Regions from separate parts of the Homo sapiens genome. Here region 1 is linked to region 2. A link means that fine-mapping ties the variant in region 2 to the expression of a gene that starts in the linked region. Tissue or cell type: whole blood. Region 2 holds a variant in brackets; the other region holds the start of a gene. All regions are shown on one strand. Distances are from middle to middle.

The links. PIP is the estimated chance that this variant, and not a neighbour inherited with it, causes the effect.
Region 1: SUPT6H starts here. The variant in region 2 is fine-mapped to the expression of SUPT6H in whole blood (TOPMed, PIP above 0.99).

Annotation. Positions count from the first base shown.
Region 1 is chr17:28,656,016-28,666,871 of GRCh38, forward strand. It overlaps SUPT6H (SPT6 homolog, histone chaperone and transcription elongation factor), which reads left to right and starts at 6,190. Exons shown (of 37, transcript NM_003170.5): 1 at 6,190-6,327. SDF2 (stromal cell derived factor 2) reads right to left here and starts at 5,891. Exons shown (of 3, transcript NM_006923.4): 1 at 5,711-5,891. The coding sequence starts at 5,861. RefSeq lists enhancers at 5,578-6,777, 6,139-6,208, 6,306-6,980.
Region 2 is chr17:28,897,947-28,908,802 of GRCh38, forward strand. It overlaps DHRS13 (dehydrogenase/reductase 13), which reads right to left and starts at 5,133. Exons shown (of 5, transcript NM_144683.4): 1 at 4,872-5,133; 2 at 4,637-4,755; 3 at 3,547-3,670; 4 at 3,044-3,355; 5 at 1-946. The coding sequence starts at 4,998. The coding sequence ends at 495. PHF12 (PHD finger protein 12) reads right to left here. Exons shown (of 15, transcript NM_001033561.2): 12 at 10,837-10,856; 13 at 9,644-9,726; 14 at 8,910-9,048; 15 at 7,304-8,571. The coding sequence ends at 8,237. RefSeq lists silencers at 4,032-4,224, 4,726-5,355, 10,785-10,856 and an enhancer at 7,900-8,400. The variant T/G (reference allele first, on the strand shown) is at 5,576.

The DNA of each region.
Region 1 (10,856 bases), 240 kb before region 2:
AAAAAACAGCAAGTGAGCTCAGCCTCACCCTTCTTGCCTATGGCCAATATTGTGCCGTGTCATTAAACAGGTAAGAAGGGGTGGGGAGAAAAATGCTATGCTTGGCAATATTTTTTCTTCTACAACATTAAAATATTTATAAAAAATACAAATCATACTGGGCGTGGTGGCTCACGCTTGTAATCCCAGCACTCTGGGAGTGAAACTTGACCTCCCAAAGTGCTGGGATTGATGGTGAGCCACTGTGCCCAGCCTTTTTCTTCTTTTAAATAAAAAAAAAATTTTTTAGGCTGGGTGTGGTGGCTCACACCTGTAATCCTAGCACTTTTTGGGAGGCTGAGGCAGTTGGATTGCTTGAGCCCAGGAATTCAAGACCAGCCTGGGCAACATGGCAAAAACCCATCTTTACTAAAAATACAAAAATTAGCTGGGTGTGGTGGTGGCAGCCTGTAATCCCAGCTATCTGGGAGGCTGAGGTGGGAGAATCGCTTGAACCCGGGAGGTGGAGGTTGCAATGAGCCAAGATCGCGCCACTGCCCTCCAGCCTGGATGACAGAGCCAGACTCCGTCTCAAAAAAAATAAATAAATAAACTGTGTCCACGTAATACTAGTTACTATATGATAAAGTATACTTAAGGGTATGTCATATCAGAAAATTCTAAGAATTTGCATCAAAGGATATCCAAGGCACAAATCTATGTGAGTTTTTTGAGGCACAGGCAGTGGTAACCTATACACACTAGCCTGGATAGCCCCTAATGTGTCTAATCACATAATTTTAACATGTTTGTAATATTATTCATGTTCATTAACTATTATGATAAAAATTTTTGTATTTCACAATTAAAATGAGACTATGTTGCCAACTTTAAGCAGCCATTACAGCTCCCAACTCCCATAAGTGGTCAATTATTATAAACGTATTATTTAAGCAAGGCACGGTGGCTCACGCCTGTAATCCCAGCACTTTGGGAGGCTGAGGCAGGCAGAACACAAAGTCATGAGTTCGAGACCAGCCTGGCCAATATGGTGAAACCCCGTCTCTACTAAAAATATAAAAATTAGCTGGGCGTGGTCGCATGTGCCTGTAATCCCAGCTACTTGGGAGGCTGAGGCAGAAGAATTGCTTGCATCCGGGAGGCGGAGGTTGCAGTGAGCCGAGATCACACCACCGCACTCCAGCCTAGGTGGCAGGGCAAGACTCTGTCTCAAAACAAAAACAAAAACAAAACAAAAAATGTATCCTTGGAGGTCTGGCACAGTGGCTCATGCCTGTAATCCAAGCGCTTTGGGAAGGTGAGGGGAGGATCCCTTGAGTCCAGGAGTTCGAGACTAGCCTCAGCAACATAGCAAAATGCAGTCTCTAAACGTACATATATATATATGTATTTTTTTTTTTTGATACAGGATCCCTCTTGTCACTCAGGCTGGAGTGCAGTGGCACGATCACAGCTCGCCACAGCCTTGACCTCCCAGGCTCGGGTGATCCTCCTACCTCAGCCTCCCAAGTAGCTGGGATTTCAGGCGCCTGCCACCACACCTGGCTAATTTTTCTATTTTTTGTAGAGATGGGTTTTTGCCATGTTGCCCAGGCTACTCTCGAATTCCTGGGCTCAAGCAATCCAACTGCCTCAGCCTCCCAAAGTGCTAGGATTACAGATGTGAGCCACCACACCCAGCCTAAAAAAAAATTTTTATATTTAAAAGAAAAAAAAGAAGCTGGGCACAGTGGCTCACCGTCAATCCCAGCACTTTGGGAGGTCAAGGTGGGCAGATCGCTTGAGCCCAGGAATTCAAGACCAAGCCTAAGCAACTGACAAAACTCCATCTCTACAAAAGATGCAAAAAATTAATCAGGTGTGGTGGGGTGCACTTGTAGTCCCAGCTACTCAGGACGCTGAGATGTGAGGATTGCTTGAGCCCAGGAGGTCAAGGCTGCAATGAGTCGTAATTGTGTCACTGCCAGTTACACGGGTAAATGTAGCCAACTATCAGCTCCTTTCATGACTTTATTATATCTTTTTTCAGAAAAGGCAAACCAAGTCTCCCTTCCTACTTCTGGTTACTGCCTTACAGCTCTCTGGGTCCTCACAGCCACGCTTCACTAAACCATGGTCTACATTTTGTCTCCTACATTTTCTGCTTTCTATTCAACCGTTCACTTCTTCCTCCAAATCCTTATACCTTGGGATTATCCAAAGTTCTATGCCTGGCCTTCATCTGTTTCTACCTGTAGTTTTTTTTTTTTTTTTTAGTATTTATTGTTCATTCTTGGGTGTTTCTCGGAGAGGGGGATGTGGCAGGGTCACAGGATAATAGTGGAGAGAAGGTCAGCAGATAAACATGTGAACAAAGGTCTCTGGTTTTCCTAGGCAGAGGTCCCTGCGGCCTTCCGCAGTGTTTGTGTCCCTGGGTACTTGAGATTAGGGAGTGGTGATGACTCTTAACGAGCATGCTGCCTTCAAGTATCTGTTTAACAAAGCACATCTTGCACCACCCTTAATCCATTTAACCCTGAGTTGACACAGCACACGTTTCAGAGAGCACGGGGTTGGGGGTAAGGTTATAGATTAACAGCATCCCAAAGCTGAAGAATTTTTCTTAGTACAGAACAAAATGGAGTCTCCTATGTCTACTTCTTTCTACACAGACACAGTAACAATCTGATCTCTCTTTCTTTTCCCCACATTTCCCCCTTTTCTTTTCGACAAAACCGCCATCGTCATCATGGCCCATTCTCGATGGTCGCTGTCTCTTCGGTGCTGTTGGGTACACCTGCAGAAAGGCTGTCACTTCACACTTGGAAGACTGCACAGCGGCCAGGCAGAGGCGCTCCTCACTTCCCAGACGGGGCGGCCGGGCAGAGGCACTCCTCACTTCCCAGACAGGGTGGCCGGGCAGAGGAGCTCCTCACTTAACAGACTGGGTGGCCGGGCAGAGGCGCTCCTCACATCCCAGACGATGGGAGGCCGGACAGAGGCGCTCCTCCCCTCCCAGACGGGGCGGCCGTGCAGAGGCGCTCCTCACTTCCTAGATGGGACAGCCAGGCAGAGGTGCTCCTCAACTCCCAGACGAAGGGCGGCCGGGCAGAGGCGCTCCTCACATCCCAGACAATGGGCGGCCGGGCAGAGGCGCTCCTCACTTCCCAGACAGGGTGGCGGCCGGGCAGAGGCGCTCCTCACATCCCAGACGGGGTGGCGGCCAGGCAGAGGCGCTCCCCACTTCCCAGACGGGGCGGCTGGGCAGAGGCGCTCCCCACTTCCCAGACGGGGCAGCCGGGCAGAGGCGCTCCCCACTTCCCAGACAGGGCGGCCGGGCAGAGGCGCTCCCCACTTCCCAGACGGGGCAGCCGGGCAGAGGCGCTCCCCACTTCCCAGATGGGGTGGCGGCCGGGCAGAGGCGCTCCTCACATCCCAGACAGGGCGGCCAGGTGCTCCCCACTTCCCAGATGGGGTGGCCGGGCAGAGGTGCTCCTCACCTCCCAGATAATGGGCAGCCCACTTCCCAGATGGGGTGGCAGCCGGGCAAAGGCACTCCTCACATCCCAGATGGCGCGGCCGGGCAGAGGCGCTCCTCACTTCCCAGACGGGGCGGCCAGGCAGAGGCGCTCCTCACTTCCTAGACAGGGCGGCCAGGCAGAGACGCTCCTCACATCCCAGACAGGGTGATGGCCGGGCAGAGGTGCTCCTCACTTCCCAGACGGGGTGGCGGCCGGGCAGAGGCCCTCCTCATATCCCAGACGGGGCGGCCAGGCAGAGGCGCTCCTCACATCCCAGACGATGGGCGGCCAGGCAGAGACGCTCCTCACTTCCTAGACGGGGTGGCGGCCGGGCAGAGGCTGTACTCTTAGCACTTTGGGAGGCCAAGGCAGGCGGCTGGGAGGTGGAAGTTGTAGTGAGCCAAGATCACACCACTGCACTCCAGCCTGGGCAACACTGAGCACTGAGTGAGCAAGACTCCATCTGCAATCCCAGCACCTCGGGAGGCTGAGGCAGGCAGATCACTCGAGGTCAGGAGCTGGAGACCAGCCCAGCCAACACGGCGAAACCCCGTCTCCACCAAAAATACGAAAACCAGTCAGGCATGGCGGCGTGTGCCTGCAATCCCAGGCACTCGGCAGGCCGTGGCAGGAGAATCACGGGAGCCCCAGGCAGGGAGGTTGCAGCGAGCCGAGATCACGGCAGTACAGTCCAGCCTCGGCAACAGAGGGAGACCGTGGAAAGAGAGAAGAGACAAGAGAGGGAGACGGAGAGGGCTACCTGTAGTTCTTAAACAATTGTTGAGGGTCAGGACAAAAGCATTTGTATTTTTAACAAGTTTCTCCAGTTATTCAAATTAATCCCAGATAGAGAATCACAGTTCATTCTGGGCAATTTCATCTACAACCCTGACATCTTCAACCACAGTCTGTACAAGATGTTATATTTAATGTTGTATCTCAGGCTCAGCACAGATCCCTTTTCTGAGCTCCGGACTGAACCTGGTTCCCAAATCTGGCTGTCCATCAGAACCACCTGAAGAGCTTTTTAAACCTACAGATTGCTACTGCCAAGCCTCTGTCCACCTCCACTCTAATTCAGTAGATCCAAAGTAGGAAACCAAAACAAAGTAAAAAATAAGCCTGACAACATGGTAGGTGTTCACTGAATGGGTGCTAGAATTATTAAGACATCGCAGTGATGATAACTCATGTCCTTGCCTAGTCTGACTGATCAGATGGGTTTTGGGAATCATGAACCAGACTAGCCCACCTGACAGAACTCTTTCCTCCCTCAGCAAACAGCATCATCAGTCATTCAAGACAAAAATCTACCAGCTATCTTAGATGCCTCTCACATCTCACTAGCTGACCTTCATTCTTTTTTTTTAACTTTATCTTTTTTTTTCAGGCAGATAAGACTTTCTTTTTTTAGTCTGTTTTTATTATATTGTAATTTTCTTGACTGATTATCACCACCGAATCTCCTGTATGTAGTACAATTCTAGCCATGTAGTAGGAACTCATTAAGACCTATGCTGAATGAATCCACAAATAATTTATTACTAAACATTTTAATTTCAAACGCTAAAAAAAAAAAAAAAAAAAAGCAGTTTTCTCTGCAATTCCTGTCACTGCTCCAAGTTTCTTACAAGAAGGAGGTTAAGGTTTGGGTAGAAGGGGGCCAAAGATGGAAACTGAGGAGCAAGTGTAAGATGCAGAAGAGCTGGAAGACAAAGGGTTGTAGTCAACGAGTGAGCTCTTGGAGTTTAAAGTTTCACAGACAGTACTTACTGTAACTTTAAAATTTCAGACACAGCACTTACTGTAATTTTCTTGTCTCTAAAGCAGGCTTTGAACCTGGATAGATTTGGATAGAACCCCGACTTTGTCATTTGCTAACTGCAAGGCTTTGAATAAACGATTTAATTTCTCTGCGTCTGTTTCCTCATCTGTGAAATGAGGATAACAATACTGTCCACCTTACAACAATGTTAATAATCGGAAAAAGGACATAGGTAACGTGCCTGGCCTGTAGCTCACCAAATATTAGGTGGTGTTGCGATTAAGATGCCTTAGAACAATTCAGTTCTCCGACTCTCTAGACCTGAGGAACCTTCCCAGGGAACCCCTAACTTTCCCAGACCACACTGTCAGATATTCTATAGGCCCCGCCCCTCCAGAGCCTCCGAGTCCTCCCTAGCCCACCCGAGCCCGGTCCCCAGCATTACCTGACCCATAGCGCACGTCGTGTGAGTGCAGTCGGACGTTGTGGCGCGTATTGAGTAGCTTCACCACGGAGCCGCAAGTAACGACACCCAGGCTGGACGCTCCCACAGCGCTCCACAAACCCCCCAACAACAGCAGAGGTACTACAGCCATCCTAACTGTATCGCGGAGCCCCAAATCTTCGAAGAAAACTCGGCCCCTCCCCGGAACCGGAAGCTAATGGCGAAACCACGGAGAGAAGGAAGTGAAGAAGCCCGAGTCTGATCTTTATGGTTTATTTGACTAGAGCGGCCTGAGAAACCGGCTGAGCCTGGTTACTTACGATACTCTCGCTCTGTTCCAGGGGCTCAGTGACAGCTGCCTTCCTGAGCCGCTTCGGTTACCTTTCGCACCCACGAGACGAAAGCTTCCGAGAGCGGGAGAGAGAACAAGAAATGGCCCGCCCACTCCCGGTGACAGGGAGCCGGAAATGACGTAGCACGTTGACGCAGCAGCGGCGGCGGTGGCGGCGGAGGGGCCGTGCGGTGGGTCCGTACTATCTTTTCCCAGTCTCGGTTCGACGACTCCATTTTCCTCGGTGGGGGCTTAGCGCACTGGAGGAGCGGCGGGCTTCAGACAGGTAAAGTTCCGACTGGAGAGCGTGTTTCTCGCAGGAGTCAGGTGGGGAACCGGGCTCCTAGGGCCTGGTCACGTAAGGGAAGAGGCAGTGGGGAGCCGTATGCGGGAAGAAGGGGGAGCCTGGCCTTCCCTGCTCTATGGGGGGAAGGGGGAGGAAAGCGCTGTAGTTGCTCAGAGTCCGAAAGCTTTTCCCAGCCCAGTGACACCCGGAACCCGTGAATCGGGTGGCACGTTGAATCAACAGGCTTCCTGGCATCCCGTCCTTCTCTCCGCAGGTTTTTAAAACTGGGCCACGCAAAAGGATTGGGGATGGAAGGGACCTGGGGCTTCTGAGCCAGGATCAGGTGATCGAGTTGTTTGTTCTGGGGATATGAATCCTGTGGAGCTTTCAGCAGCTCGGCCATCAGGCTAGAGGGCGATGCCAAATTCCAGCTCTTTACATATTGCTGAATAATACAAATAGAACTTTTTGTAGATGGTTGCATCCTTCATCCCTTTCTAAAGATCGAAGGTCTTGTAGAAGTCCTAAAGCCCGTCCATTCTCTATAGATTCATTTCCTCAAACGTTTGCCAGAGGCCTATCATGAACATCAAAATTAGTTATTAAGTCAAAACTCCATCTTCTAGTTTCTACCTTTCTCCTCAGGCACTCCTTTGAACCAGCTGGAGAAGTTAATTTTCCTGGGTTGTTGCAAGAACTGATACTTATTTCAGAGGGCTAAGATCTCTGAAAATACTTCCGTGGAAATTCACTGTAATATCAAAAGTAACAAGGGTGTATGAAGCTACATCATTAATGAGCATTAGGGAGTGTAAACAATATTGAATTTGATTAATTTCTTCGGAAAAATGTCTGGTTCCACTGTTTATCTGGAAGTTACCAGTTTGTAAGTCTTCAGTGTTTTGATTACAGAAACATAACTGCTCTTCCATCAGCTGTGAATTTAGAGCCCTTTTTTACGAGTAATGTCCCTTTCACCAGTACAAGTACATTTTTATTCACTTGGCTTGTGTGGCTGCTAGATTGGATTAGCATAGCCTTGCAACTCTAGGAGGTTTTAACTTCATCAGGAGATTAATTACATCAGAAAGTGGTACCGTCTGGAGAGGCTTAGTCAAATTTTACAGTTCTTCCTCTGAAAGCCTACCTAGTGTGGTGGAAACATGATCTTTGTAGGCAAATACGTTTGCCCTGATTCTATATTCTTGACCTTAATAAATGGCACTACCATCAGTCCTGCCTGTAATCCTTGTCTTCCTTCCTGTCCACTATTTCCCAATAAAATCAGTCACCAAATCCTGTCTCTCCCTGAAACTGTTCCCATCAGCATACAAATTATGTTCTGGTATCCTTCACATCCCTCTCCAATTACCATGCCAATTTTTTAAATTTCCATTCATAGATTTCTACCTGTACCAACTCAGCTTTCTCAACTTTCATTCACTCTTCATTTTATACCAATCTGGCTTCTCTTCTGCCCACTCCATTTTTTTTTTTTTTTTTGTGGAGACAGGGTCTTGCTCTGTTGCCCAGGTTGGAGTGCAGTGGCCCCATCATAGCTCACTGCCACCTGGAACTCCTGAGCTCAAGCAGTCCTCCTGAGGCAGCTTCTAGTAATCAAGTGCCACCACATCTACTTTGCCCACTCCATTGAAGTTGCTCTTATCAAGGTCACCAGTGACTTCTATGTTGCCAAATCCAATGGATACTTTGTTCTCATATTCCTCTGTCTCTGCAATATTCAACATAGTTACTCCTGCCTCCAAACTTTCATCTTGGCTTTATTGACATTTCACTCTTGGATTTTCTCCATTTCTCCGGCTGTTCCTTCTGAGTCTCATTTGCTAGCAACTTTTGCTCTCTATCTAATGTCTAAATGCTGGGGCTGGTCGCAGTGGCTCATGCCTATAATCCCAGCACTTTGGGAGGTCGAGGTGGGCAGATCACTTGAGGTCAGGAGTTCACAACCAGCCTGGCCAGCATGGTGAAACCCCATCTCTACTAAAAATACAAAAACTAGCCGGGCGTGGCGACACGCCTGTAATCCCAGCTACTTGGGAGGCTGAGGCAGGAGAATCACTTGAACCAGGGAGGCAGAGGTGCAGTGAGCAGAGATCATGCCACTGCACTCCAGCATGGGCAACAGAACAAAACTCCGTCTCAAAATATATGTATATCTACATATGTTGGAATTCTCACAGGAATCCCGAGCCTTCTACATGCTTCCCTTTAGGTAACCCAGCCCCATGGCTTTAATTACCACCTGAAAGTTGGCAACTCCAAAGTTTAAATCTCTAGTCCAGCCCTCTCCTCTATGTTGCAGAATCACGCGTCAAAAATGCCTGTTTAATTATCTCCATTTGGATATTTCTTAGGCACCCAAAGCTAACATAACCAAAAGAAAGTTTTGGTTTTCTCATCATTGCAAACCTTATCCTCCCGTTTCACTGAGTGGTGCTCCTATCCGCAGGGTTACCAAAGATAGACCTCTGAGAATCATCTTTGTTCTTCTCCTTTACTACTCCTCTTCCCCAGTCTTTCAGTAAGTCTTGTCACTTCCACTTGCAGAATGTTTTTGTAATCTGTCTTCTATTCTCCATCTTCACTTTTACCACCTTATTCCAAGCCACCACCATCTTTTGCCTGGGCTACCACAACAGTATCTTCAGTTTTCCCTGGTTTCCACTCAGATCTTCCTCCAGTTCATTTTCCATGTAACAGAATTGGATCAGGGCAGATCATGTCATTTCCCTACTTAAAACTCTCCAGTGACTTTCCATGGCCTTTACGCCCTGCTTGAGCATACCTCTCCCTCATAGGCTGCTGCCTTCACCATGCTCTAGTGCCATCAGCCTCAGGACATCACCTATTATATACCATGTTCTTGCCCACTTTCTCTACTGGAACCTCTCCTCCTACTTCTACAGGTCATATCCTACCTATTGACATCTCAGCCTAAGTAAACTCACTTTAGATGAGATGAGAATATGCATTTCCTTCTTCGCTTTTAGAGCAAGGTTTATTTTATTTGTTGCCAATATGTCTCCTGCACCAGAATACGGGCATCCTAGGGGCATGGACCTAGTCTTGTACGTGCCTGGCATGTGGTAGGCACTCATTAAATACATATTTATGCCAGGCATGGTGGTTCACGCCTATAATCCCAACACTTTGGGAGGCTGAGGCAGGCGGATCACCTGAGGTCAGGAGCTCGAGCCCAGGCTGGCCAACATGGTGAAACCCCGTCTCTGTTAAAGATACAAAGAAAAAATTAGCTGGACGTGGTGGTGGGTGCCTGTAATCCCAGCTACTTGGGAGGCTGAGGCAGGAGAATTGCTTGAACCTGGGAGGCGGAGGTTGCAGTGAGCTGAGATCGTGCCACTACACTCCAAGCCTGGGCAATGGAGCGAGACTCTGTCTCAAAAAAACGTATATGTATATGTATATGTATTTGTCCTAGCTACCTGGGAGGCTGAGGTGAGATTATGGCTTGAGCCCAGGAGGTGGAGGCTGCAGTGAGATGTAATCACACCACTGCACTCCAGTCTGGGTGACAGAGCAGGACCCCATCTCAGAAAATAATAAGTTTTTGTTGGATTAGCAAGTAGATTAAGTTCAGTTCTACATTTAAAACCCTGCAATGGCTTCCCAGTGCCTAGATCCTTATGACTTCTCCAACCCTTATGAACCATTCTTCCTCTCCTGGGCCTTCTCTGTACCTGCCACAGTACACGTGTTGTGCTAGAAGCACACGTCTCTGACATCACTCCCCAAACCATCTCCAAAGAAGCCAGCTCCTCTGCTGAACTAATTCCTCCTTACTCTTAAGGTCTTTGTTTAAAGTCACTTCCTCAAAACCAGGTTAGGTTGTCTTATTACAGGATCCCATGCTATTCTTATCATCAATTCTCTAAATCAGGGGTCACAAACTAAGGCCTGTGAGCCAAATAAGGTCACCCCCATTCATTTACATGTTATGTATGCTGTGCTACAGTGGCAGATTTGGCCCTATAGAGAAAAGGAAAGGTTTGCCAACCCCTGTGCTAGAGCAGGAACTATGCGCTCCTCAATGTGTGTACCACAAGGTTCAGTAACTGTTAATCTCTCTTTGTGTTGCAGGGGTTCTGAATCTGGTTACATATTTCAGTTGTACTCTTCTTTAGCCCTTACCCTGTTTCTCTAAAGAAATGTGGAAAGAAAAGGAATACTTTTTTTTTTTTTTTTTTTGAGACGGAGTCTCGCTCTGTCACCTTGGCTGGAGTGCAATGGCATGATCTCGACTCACTGCAAGCTCTGACTCCCACGTTCAAGCGATTCTCCTGCCTCAGCCTCCTGAGTAGCTGGGATTACAGGCGTGCACCACCACACCCGGCTAATTTTTGTATTTTTAGTGGAGACAGGGTTTCATCATGCTGGCCAGGCTGGTCTCGAGCGTCTGACCTGACCTGAAGTGATCAGCCTGCCTCAGCCTCCCAAAGTGCTGGCATTATAGGCGTGAGCCACCGCGCCCAGCCGAATAAATAATATTT
Region 2 (10,856 bases):
GACCCTTGGGTTCAGATCCCAGGCCCTCCTCCTACTCACTGTGAGACCCTAGGCGAGTCCCTTAGCTCGGGAGCCTAATTCCGCTTCATTAACATGGGGGTAATTTAACTACCTAGCTAGACGGTTGCAAAGGGATCAGTTCACTAATTCTCAATGTTGGCAGTGCATCACATTGCAAACTCCCTGCCTCTGCTCCAGAGCTGATCAGAATCAATAAGGGTGGGGCCTGAAAATACTACATCCAAATTTCCGAGAAGCACAGTGTCTAGCATACCCCTATCTCTCCATCTGGGGTTACTGTCACTCTCAGGAAGAAATAATCACCCATTATTCCTTCAACCAGGAAAAGAGATGTCCAGGGCACAGCTTGGGGCCCCAGAAAGTAACCACGGAGGTCAAGATCACAAACCCGTCAGTGTCCAGGGCATGGCCTCGCACACATCCGAGGTTTTCAAGGACCATGAAGTGCCATGGCAAGCATCCTGGCCTGAGGGTTAGGAGAGCTGGATCTCAGGCTCAACTTTAGCCTGAATTCGGTGCGTCATCTTAGACAAATCTGGTGAGCTCTGAGGGCTGGGGTAAGGTTGAGAAACTGTGGGCTCCTCAGGGTGGGGGGTGCTTAGAGAAGATGGGGCCTCTGAGTCCTCAGACTGGGGGTCTTCATCGGGTTCAGCATCCTCCCCAGGCCCAAGCCCTGCCAGCCTCTTGCTGGCCTCCCATAGCCGATGGGCTGCCCGGTCGTCTCGGGCAGCTGGAGGCACCTCTTCCACATGGCAGTTGGCAAAATATCTCCCACTGAGGGGCTCGATGCCCTCTTGTAGAGCACAATACAGGGGTGTCTGGGCACCCCCTCTTGGTGCCCGGAGCACCAGCCAAGCCAATGGGCGCAAAAGTGGGCGCAGCCATCCAGGAACATGGCGCAGGAACAGCTCCGAGTTCACAGGCCCTGTAGGCAGGAAGAAAGAAAGGAGTCGGGCTAGGCACAGTGGTGTGTATTTACAGTCACAGCTACTCGGGAGGCGGAGCAGGAGGATCACTTGAGCCCAGGAGTTTGAGACCAGACTGGGCAACATAGTCAAGCTCTGTCTCTTTAAAAAAAAAAACAACAACAAAAAAAATAGAACAGAGCTAGAAGAACAGGGACAGAATCTGGTTTCAAGGGAACCAGGATAGTATTTACCAGGCATTCGGGGCTTCTGCGAGGTGACTTCACTCATTTCCTGCATGAAGCCTCTTCGCTTCCATCCAGACTGCTTGTTCACCCCACATCCCAGATTTTGTTCATGCTGTGTCCCATGTCTGAAACAATTCTCAGTCTCTCTCCATCTTTTCTTCTAGCTCAAGTCCTGTTCCTTGTTTAACCAGCATTTATTAAGTACTTGCAGTATACCAGCCACTATTTTGGACATTAGTGATATGGAGTGTAATAAAGACTTAATAAAGGCTAATTGTGATCATCGCTATTATAATTACTAATGAGCCTTAGGCAGTGACTATCTAAAATGCAGTATGGTAATATGAATATGACAGATCTTGTTATCCTGGTATAACCTCTTCCATAAGACAAAGTGTTGCTCTGGATCCCCAATTATCTCACTCAGAGTAAAAGCCAGAATGCCTATAGTGAACCTCCCTCCAAACCCTACAGGACACAGTGCCTCTCTATGACCTCACCTCTTGCCACTCTCCCCCCTCACTCTGTTCCAGCCACATTAGCCTTTCTCAAGCACACCAGGAACTTCTGCCTTAGGGCCTCTGCACTTACTTTTTTCTGTTTTGGAGACAGAGTCTCGCTCTGTCACCCAGGCTGGAGTACAGTGGCGAGATCTCAGCTTACTGGCAACGTCCACCTCTAGGTTCAGGCGATTCTCCTGCCTCAGCCTCCTGAATAGCTGGGACTACAGGTGATAGCCACAATGCCTAGCTAATTTTTGTATTTGTAGTAGAGACAGGTTTTCTTTTTTTTTTCTTTTTTCTTTTTTTTTGAGATGGAGTCTTGCTCTGTCCCCCAGGCTGGAGTGCGGTGGCGTGATCACGGCTCACTGCAACCTCCACCTCCCGGATTAAAGCGATTCTCCTGCCTCAGCCTCCTGAGTAGCTGGGATTACAGGCGCGCGCCACCACACCTGGCTAATTTTTGTATTTTTAGTACAGATGGGGTTTCACCATGTTGGTCAGGCTGGTCTCGAACTCCTGACCTTGTGATTGCCCGCCTCGGCCTCCCAAAATGCTGGGATTACAGGTGTGAGCCACCACGCCCAGCCTAGAGATGGGGTTTCACCATGTTGCCCAGGTTGGTCTCGAACTCCTGACCTCAAGTGATCTACCAGCCTTGGCCTCCCAAAGTGCTGGGATTACAGGCATGAGCCACCGCTTCCAGCCCCTCTGCACTTATTATTTGCACTGTTCTCTCTTTTTCTGGGCATCTCCCCAGTGAGCCATGTATCTTTCAGACCTCTGTTCAAATGTCACCTTTATAGATATGTCTTCCTTGACTGCCACACCATATTCCCGTTCCATTTGCCCCTTGCTGTTTCCTTTTTCCTCAGAGCACTCTATCACCACCCCTCATCGTATATATTTATTGGCTGTCTCCCTCTCCTCCAAACTAGAATGCAAACTCTATGAGGGCAGGGTCTTTGTTTTGTTCACTGCTATATCCCCAGCACTGCAAGTAATGCCTGATACAGAGTAGGTACTCGGTAAATGCTTCTTGGATGAATTATTAGCTATCATCATCATCATTATCAGTTCAGTCAGTGCAGATGGCTCCTGGGGGTGGGAATCCAGGTCTTATTCATGGCCATATACCCCCCAGGGCTGAGGACCCAGGCTTGTGGTGTGAGAGGAAGAACCTAAACCAGGAGAACCTGGTTCCAAGAGCAGCAAGGAACAGGTCTCTCCTTGGACTATGCTTCCTTGCTGCCCTGAGATTCTGTGACTCAATGAGGGATGGAGGGTGGGGAGGCGGTAGTGGTGTGGGGGGCACAGGATGGGGCAAGGAAAGGAGAGGGGAATCGGAAGCCAAAGAACCAGACCTCACCTGGGTGGGCTGCATAGCAGGTGACGCCAGTGGCCTCAAGCTGGTTGGCGAGCTCCCGGGCAAACAGTACATTAGCCAGCTTAGTGTCAGCATATGCCCGCAGCTCCTGCCGCCAGCCCACCACTGGGCGGTCCAGGCGTTTGAAGTCAAGACGTCCCCGACAGTGGGCAGCTGAGGCTACCACCACCACGCGGCTAGGGGCACATGCCTTCAGGCAAGGCAGCAGCAGATGTGTCAGCAGAAAGGGACCGATATGGTTCACCCGAAGCAGCAGGTTAAACGCCTCACGGGTCCGGCCACAGGAACTGATACCTGGGGCAGAGGCTAAATGTGAGCGGCTGCTCCAGAAGGAGCTCTGCAGCCTTGGCATCCCTATCTATGAGATGGGAGAAGGGGGCATCCTTCCCATGTGTCCACTGGCCCCAGCAGGGCCCCCGCTGGAGGGGGCAGTTGCCCCTGGCCACCCGCCACCCCACCCCCACGCAGGGCCTGCTGCCCCTCACCGGCATTGTGGATGAGGATGTCCAACCGTGGCTCAGAGCTCAGAAAGGCAGTGGCAAAGGCCCGCACCGAGGCCAGACTGGCCAAGTCCAAGGCCATGAAGATGACCTCATTGTTCCCACTCTCCTGTGGAGAGGCAAGGGCTGGGCTTGTCACCAGGCATCTCTCTCCTCTTCCCTCTCCCCAGGCACCAAATTCTGAGAGTCCATCTCCTACTGTTTACTAAAATCTGCCCCTGTGTCTTAGAGTGTACTAGATAAGTGTGTGGATTCAAATCCTGACTTTGCCTTTTACTAAAGTGTGACCTTGGGCAAGATACTTAATCTCTCTGGGTCTCAGTTCTCTCACTGCGTAAAGGGAATAATAATAACAACAGTCCCAATCTCACTGAGCTTTTGTGAGGATGAAAGGAGTTAACGTGTAAAATACACTCTAGCAGCACTGGGTAGGTACTTGCTATTATTATTATCACCTCCTTTCCCCATTACCATTTACCCTAAAATCTGTAACTTCTCACTGGTCTCCTCTCTCCCGCTCTTGCCCCCCCACTCCAGGCACCACGCAGCCACAAAGGAGTTCCTTCCAAAGGCTATTCTGACAGTCCGGAGCCTACTGAGGGCTGTTCATGGTCTCCACTGGTCTCTGCTGCCCAATCTATAAAATCCAAGCTTCTCAATAGGCTCTAGAATGTTCTCCAGCCCCCTCATTTGCCCATCTTCCTCATACTTTGTGCTCCAGCCTCATTAAATCTTTTTCTCAGTTTTTCAGATCAGTCCAGCTCTCTTTGCCTCAGAGCCTTTGCTTATGCTGTGCCCTCTGCTGTTCCCTTTCCTACTGATCATTAACCCAACTTCTACTGATGCTTAAACGTCTCAGAACTGCAATTACGGCCTTCAGGAAGCCCCTCCCCCACTCGGCTCTGGTGCGCCTTCCTCGGGTGACCCCAGCGCTCCGTGCACTCCCTCTTCGCGCTCAGCCGCCCGCGCCGCGCTCTCCTCCCTGGACCCGGATCCTCCGCAGCCCCTTTGCTGGCTTCTCTGTGTCCCGGCGGGTTCTCGGCTCACCGTCCCACGCGCCCCCGCTGCCTCTCACCTGGCGGAGGTCGAAGGCAGCCGCCTCCCCGCGCTCCTGGCTGCGGCAGGCCAGCACCACGCGCGCTCCCCGGCGCGCCAGCTCCAGCGCCGTCATCTTTCCGATGCCGCTGTTGGCGCCTGCGGACCGCGGGCGGGAGCCGAGCTGAGCTGAGCCCGGCGGGCCGCTGCTACCGCCGGCCCGGCCTCCTCTCCGCGCGCCCCGCCAGCTCGCACTCACCCGCCTCCGCACTCACCCGTGACCACGGCCGTGCGGCCCCGCAGGTTGCCCATGCCGCCGCACGGCGGGGCCTTCACCAGGTTGTAGTAGACAAGCACGTAAGCGCCCAGCAGCAACCCCGCGCCCAGCAGCAGCGCCTCCATGCCGGCCGCGCCTCCCGGCTCCCGCCCAGGCCCCGCACCGCCCTGGATCGCCGCCAGGCGGCTGCCGATCCGCCCTGCACAGGCCTGGAACGGCGCCCGGGCGCGTCAGCCTCCGAAGGCGGAGGCGGGCAGGAGGCTGGGCAGGGGCGTGTGCGCGTGCGGGTGCGCGCCGGCCCTGCGAGCGCCCCCTAGGCGTGCGTCGGCGTCCTGGGGGCGTGTGCCTCTGTGGACACCTTTGAGGTGAGTGTGTGCGCTTGGGCCCTGGGAGCGCCCCCTAGGTGTGTGCCTGTGTGAACTCCTGGGTGTGTGTGTCCACGTACACCCTGTGAGTGCACGCTAGGTATGTGCATGCATCTGCAACGCTTGTATGTGAATGATCTCTAGGTGTGTATGTGCCCATGTCCCTGAGGATCACCCTTTGGGTTGTGTGCGTGCCTCTGGATCCTGTGTGTGAGCTCCTGTAAGCACCTTGTAGGTGTTTGTGTGCATTCTGGCAGAGTCCCTCCAGGTATGTGCCTGCATCTGTAGTCTCTGCCAGTGCATGTGCTTGCATATCTCCATATGTTTACTCGAGGTG[T/G]ATGTAGCACAGTCCCTCCCTTCTGAAGTTAGGTGTGTACATGAATACACGTGTGTCTTTGAGTCTAGTCCTAGATGCTTTTCCCTCTAAGAACAAATCCTTCTCCTTCCTTCCCTTCTGCACAAATCCTTCTCCTTTCCTTCCTTTCCTTTCCTTCCTTCCTTCCTTCCTTCCTTCCTTCCCTTCCTTCCTTCCTCCCTTCCTTCCTTCCTTCCTTCCCTCCCTCCCTTCCTTCCTTCTTTCCTTTCTTTCTTTCTTTTGAGACGGAGTTTCACTCTCGTTGCCCAGGCTGGAGTGCAGTGGCGTGATCCCGGCTCACTGCAACCTCCGCTTCCCGGGTTCAAGCAATTCTCCTGCCTCAGAATCCAGAGTAGCTGGGATCACAGGTGTGTGACACCACACCCGGCTAATTTTTGTATTTTAGTAGAGAAGGGTTTTCACTATGTTGGCCAGGTTGGTCTCAAACTTCTGACCTTAAGTGACCCACCTGCCTCAGCCTCTCAAAGTGCTGGGATTACAGGTGTGAGCCTCTGCACTGGGCCAAATCCTTCGTTTTCTTATCTTCACATCCAGCCCCCAGCTTCTAGGATTCTTCCGTGTTCTCCCCACACAGGCTAGAGAGGACACTGTTAAAGGTGGCACAGGCAGTTAAGGGGTGTCAGAATTCACTCCTTCATTCCCCCTCTGTATCTCCCTACCTCAACCCCACTAGTGCCTTCCATGGCTGAAGGGAAGCAGGAAGAGATAGAGAGTAAAATCTGTTATTGCCTTTCAGGAGGAAATTTGCCTTTGGAATGGTTCTCATAGGTGATAAGAGACAGGCAGAGAAGCTCCATCACTCAATTACAAGTGACCATGATGGCAGGAAGGGTGGGGCTGGCTAGGAACAAATGGGTAAGACCATTCCAGGGCAGAAGGCCGTTGCCTGATACATTCAGTACAATTTAGAACCTGGTATTTGGCACTTATGGTGTGCCCAGCAGTGTAGTTAGACTTGGAAATTCCGAGTGGAAGATATACAAGTTTCTGTCCTTAGGGAGTTCAAAAAGCCCATTAGGGCACCGGGAGCAGAGTGATGACGCCTGCATGGGCAGATGAAAGTCAGGGACAGACCTCAGATTCCAGGGCCAGTTTCCTATTTAGCTGCACTGCGGATTCGGGTTTCCATTGTAGATGCTGTGGGATGAGGCTGGGGGTAGAATATTCATTTTCTATCCCTAAGGCAAAATCCTGACACACAAGCAGATGCACCTACACAAACAGTGCTGGAATATACACAGAGGTGCTCTCCATCTGAGGAGGCTGACCTCAGGAAAACTTCCTGGAGAGTTTTTCACTAAGATCTGGGAGGAAAGCATGGAATTTGGTTTAATGAAGGTCCCCGGGACTTGAGAATTAAGGTAATGCAGCAGACTCGTTTTTTGATGAGGAATAGCAGTTGTAGAGAAGTGTGACTGCAGATCACATGACTAGAAGTGACAGGTCAAGACTAGATTCCACTATCAGTCAGGGTTCTCTGGAGAAACAGCTCCCCCCGGGCCAGCAGACGCACCCATGTCATTCCATTGTCATCCACCCACCCTGGCTCACTTTTCTCCAACACCTCCCCTACCAAACTTCCCTATGGGAATGAGACCTGTTCAAAAGGCCCCCCACCTGCTAGACCCAGATCTAGGGGAGGGTCTCCTCTAAGGGTGATGACAGGTAGGACAGACAGTCAGAAAACAATTTGAAGTATTTTTGTTTTTTATATACAGAATACAGGAAAGTTTCTGTAAAGTCTAAAACATTACAATTACTATGTACATTGGTACTGGTTGTGGGGGTGGGAGGAGAGGAGGGAACCAGGGGCAGGAGGAAGAGGAGAGAAGTGGCAAGAGAACAAAAAAAGGAGACAAAACAGGTTTACGACAAAAACATTTTTGCTACAATAGACAATTTGAGAAAACGCTCTACCACATGTAGTACTGTACACGGTTTTTAAAAACATTGAAAAAATGTCATCACTAGATGTATTTACACAAAATCCAAATACACTTTTCCTTATTTGAAATAAAATAGATGGACAGCCAGAAAAAGAATTCATTTCTCATTTGTCCATAATACACAGTAGCTACCTGTAGTGCAACCGCTGCAGAAAGGGAAAATAACGTGGAGGGTGGGAACCATGGAAGGAAGGTGGGTAGCGATCTTTATATTAAATAAAACAATGATATTGTATAGATTTTGCTGTATGAAAACTGTATTTTTTCTTTTAATATAAAACTATTGTCACTGCCACAAAATAGAACAAGTTTCTGATTATTTTACAATGGTGGGCGAGGGGGAGGGAGCAGGAGGTGGGTGGGGAAGGGTTTTGTGTTGGAGGAAGTGTCCAGACCCTGGGTCTTTCCCTCCCTGCCCACGCTGTTCCTCAGCTCAGGTCTGCCGCTTTCCCATGAAATGTTGAGTACAAATATATGTGCAAATGCCCCCTAGAACTTGAGAAAAGAAAAAGGATTTTTAAAAAACAGTCAAAAGGTTTTCTTCATTTCATGCAAAGATTGTAGTTGAAGGGTTTCTGGTAGAGTATAGAAAACACCCGGGCTTGGTTTGTGTACATTTTTGCATTGCAGGAGTCTTGGGTGGGTGTACAGGCCAGTGGCGGGGTAGCCGCCAGTCCTAAGGAACAGAGTTGGAGCGCAGCACAGGGCCCTGGTGGGGCTTGAGAGAGAGCTTCTCGGCCAAGACCCCATCCTGCAGCAGGCTGGCATCGCCTTTGGGCTGTTTGGTCGCAAACTCAGTGATGCTGAAGACAAACTGCAGGCAGCCCAGCTTGATGTAGCTGCCATGGTGCAGTAAGGCTGTGCCCTCCCAGCCGGCCCCACTGCCCCCAATCAAGCTCGAGCTGCTGGCTTTGCAATTGCAGGGTCTCCGCTGCGGCCCCTGGGCCTGGGAACTCATCATGGCTGCCTCCTCACTTGGCTCTTCGTCCTGTTTCTGGTGCCGGCGGCGCCCTGGGAAAAAGGGGGATGGTCACAGAAGAGGAACAGTGAGCAGCCAACCCATGTGGGCTGTTTGCCAAGGTTGGGCTCCTGCATCTCCCCATTCCAACTGCTGCATGACTAGGGAGGAAGGATGCTCAGAAAGGGTTGGTGGAGTCTGAAGTCCCCACAGGTGTGTACACACATGGGGGTACTCAGCACTTGCTTCTCTGTGGCCTGCCCTGGGCCCACGAGGAAGTAGAGCTTGGCCAATAGGACTGGGAAGGCAAGAGACAGACCATGGGCAGCAAGTCAGAACCACCCTGACTGGGGCCTCAGCTTTGTGGCCACAGATCTCTGCTCCAACTTACTGATGACACTCTGCACTTTGGCAACAATACTGCTTGGGGGGGTTGGCGGGGTCTTCTCCGAGAAGTCACATGAATACAGCACATTGTCCACCGTTGTCCCATGCTCACTGTAGTTTAACAGCTCATAATGTTTGGTATTCTGAGGAGGAGGAGGGGAGATAAGATGTGTGGTCTGCTGTGTGGGGCCTGGGGCTAAGGGGAGAGAGGACATATGGAGAAGGCCGTGCTACTCTACCTAGAGAGTCCTTACTTGCCTCCCCAGTCATGGCCCCTGTCCTTTCAGAAGGGGGCTGGAGACACCTCCTCAGGGAAGCTTTCCTTCTGGTGTCCCACACTCCCTACTCTCCCACTCCTTCACTCTGCCCTCTCAGCACCGCTCCTCTTGGTATGATACTCACTGGCCCGTGATGATAATGAAATTCACAGGGACACACCCACAAGGCTTGGCTTCCTTCTATGCTGGTCCCCTCCCTTGCTTTAGGGTAGGCTCCCTCTGTTGTGCCTGTGACTAACCTCAGGAAAAATGGTAGCCCTGCTCCTGGGAAGCAGGTAGCTTCCCAGGTAGGATGCTATTTCACATCAAGACTCTCCTCCTCCAGGAATGACAGGGAGGGAAGAAAAAGAGAGGACCCCCAATCCCTCTTCCCTCCCCTCAGGGCACTGAACAAAAACCTACTGCCTGGGAGAGGCCTCAGGTTGGGAAAGCTCCCTCCCACCGCATCTCCGGCCCTCACCTCATCGTAGAATATGCAGGCATGTTTCCCGGACACGTAGTTACAGTGACCATAGTTTGTAAGGCACACATCCATGTCAGCTCCTGCAAGGTGGCAGGAGTAGAGGAAAAGGAAGGCAGAGAACAGATTGTAAGGTGCATGTGTCGGGGAGGTAAGACAGGGAGAGAGTTAGCTTCTGGGTTGGCACTAGCAGAGACTTCAAGGGTGAGTAGCTCAGGGCCCTCCCCTTTTATTTTTGAACAAAAACTGTTGTCTTTTCCAAGCTCCTGATAAAGAACAGCTGTCCCTGCCAGCTGATCTGCTTTAGAACATGTGGCTGCTACCCAGAAGGGAAGAGTGAGCTACTGAAGAGGATGGGATATTTCTATGAAAATACAACATCGGGGTGCAGAGCCTAGAAAATCTTATCACCTTAAAGAAAGGGAAGTTTCTAGGGTAAGGGCTAATCTGTCTGTCCTTCTGTACCAGATACAGAGCTATCGGTCTCTAGGACTTTTAGGGAAAACAAAACAAAACAAAAAACAGATACAGGGCTAACTGAAGATTGGGTATGTGTGAGTCTATCACTCTTTCAAAGACCACCAGGGACAAAGCATCTGCCTTCTCCTTAGGTTCTTCCCTGCAGTGTTTAAAGTGCCTCCCTGGGCAGTAGTCAGAGCTGACTTTCATCTCTGCTGTTGCAACACTGGGCAAAGACAAAGCAAAAGGGCCTGAACAAGGGAAGACAAGGAACTGATTGTCTCTTTTATTTTTGAGACAGGGTCTCACTCTGTTGCCTGGGCTGGAGTGCAGAGGCACAAAAAGGATCACTGCCTGGACCTCCCAGCCTCAGGTGATCTTCCCACCTCAGCCTCCCAAGTAGCTGGGACTATAGGCATGTTAGCCCAGCTAATTTTTTATATTTGTTTTTGGTAGAGATAGGGTTTCACCATGTTGCCCAGGCTGGTCTCGAAGTCCTGGGCTCAAGTGTTCCTCCTGCCTTGTCCTCCCAAAGTGTTGGGATTATAGGCGTGAGCCACCGTGACTGGCTGATTGTCTCTATTCTTAGTTTCTCTTGTCTAGCTATCCACTGATTTAAAGCAGTCAACTCTGGAAAGGGCTTCCCTCACCCCTTTCTAACTTCTGTGGGTAAGGGTGTCAGTCTTTAGGGCTGAACAGATTCAGTGTCTCTCCCAGCTTCCTGGCTGGCTCACCTGTCCCGATGTAGAGGGTT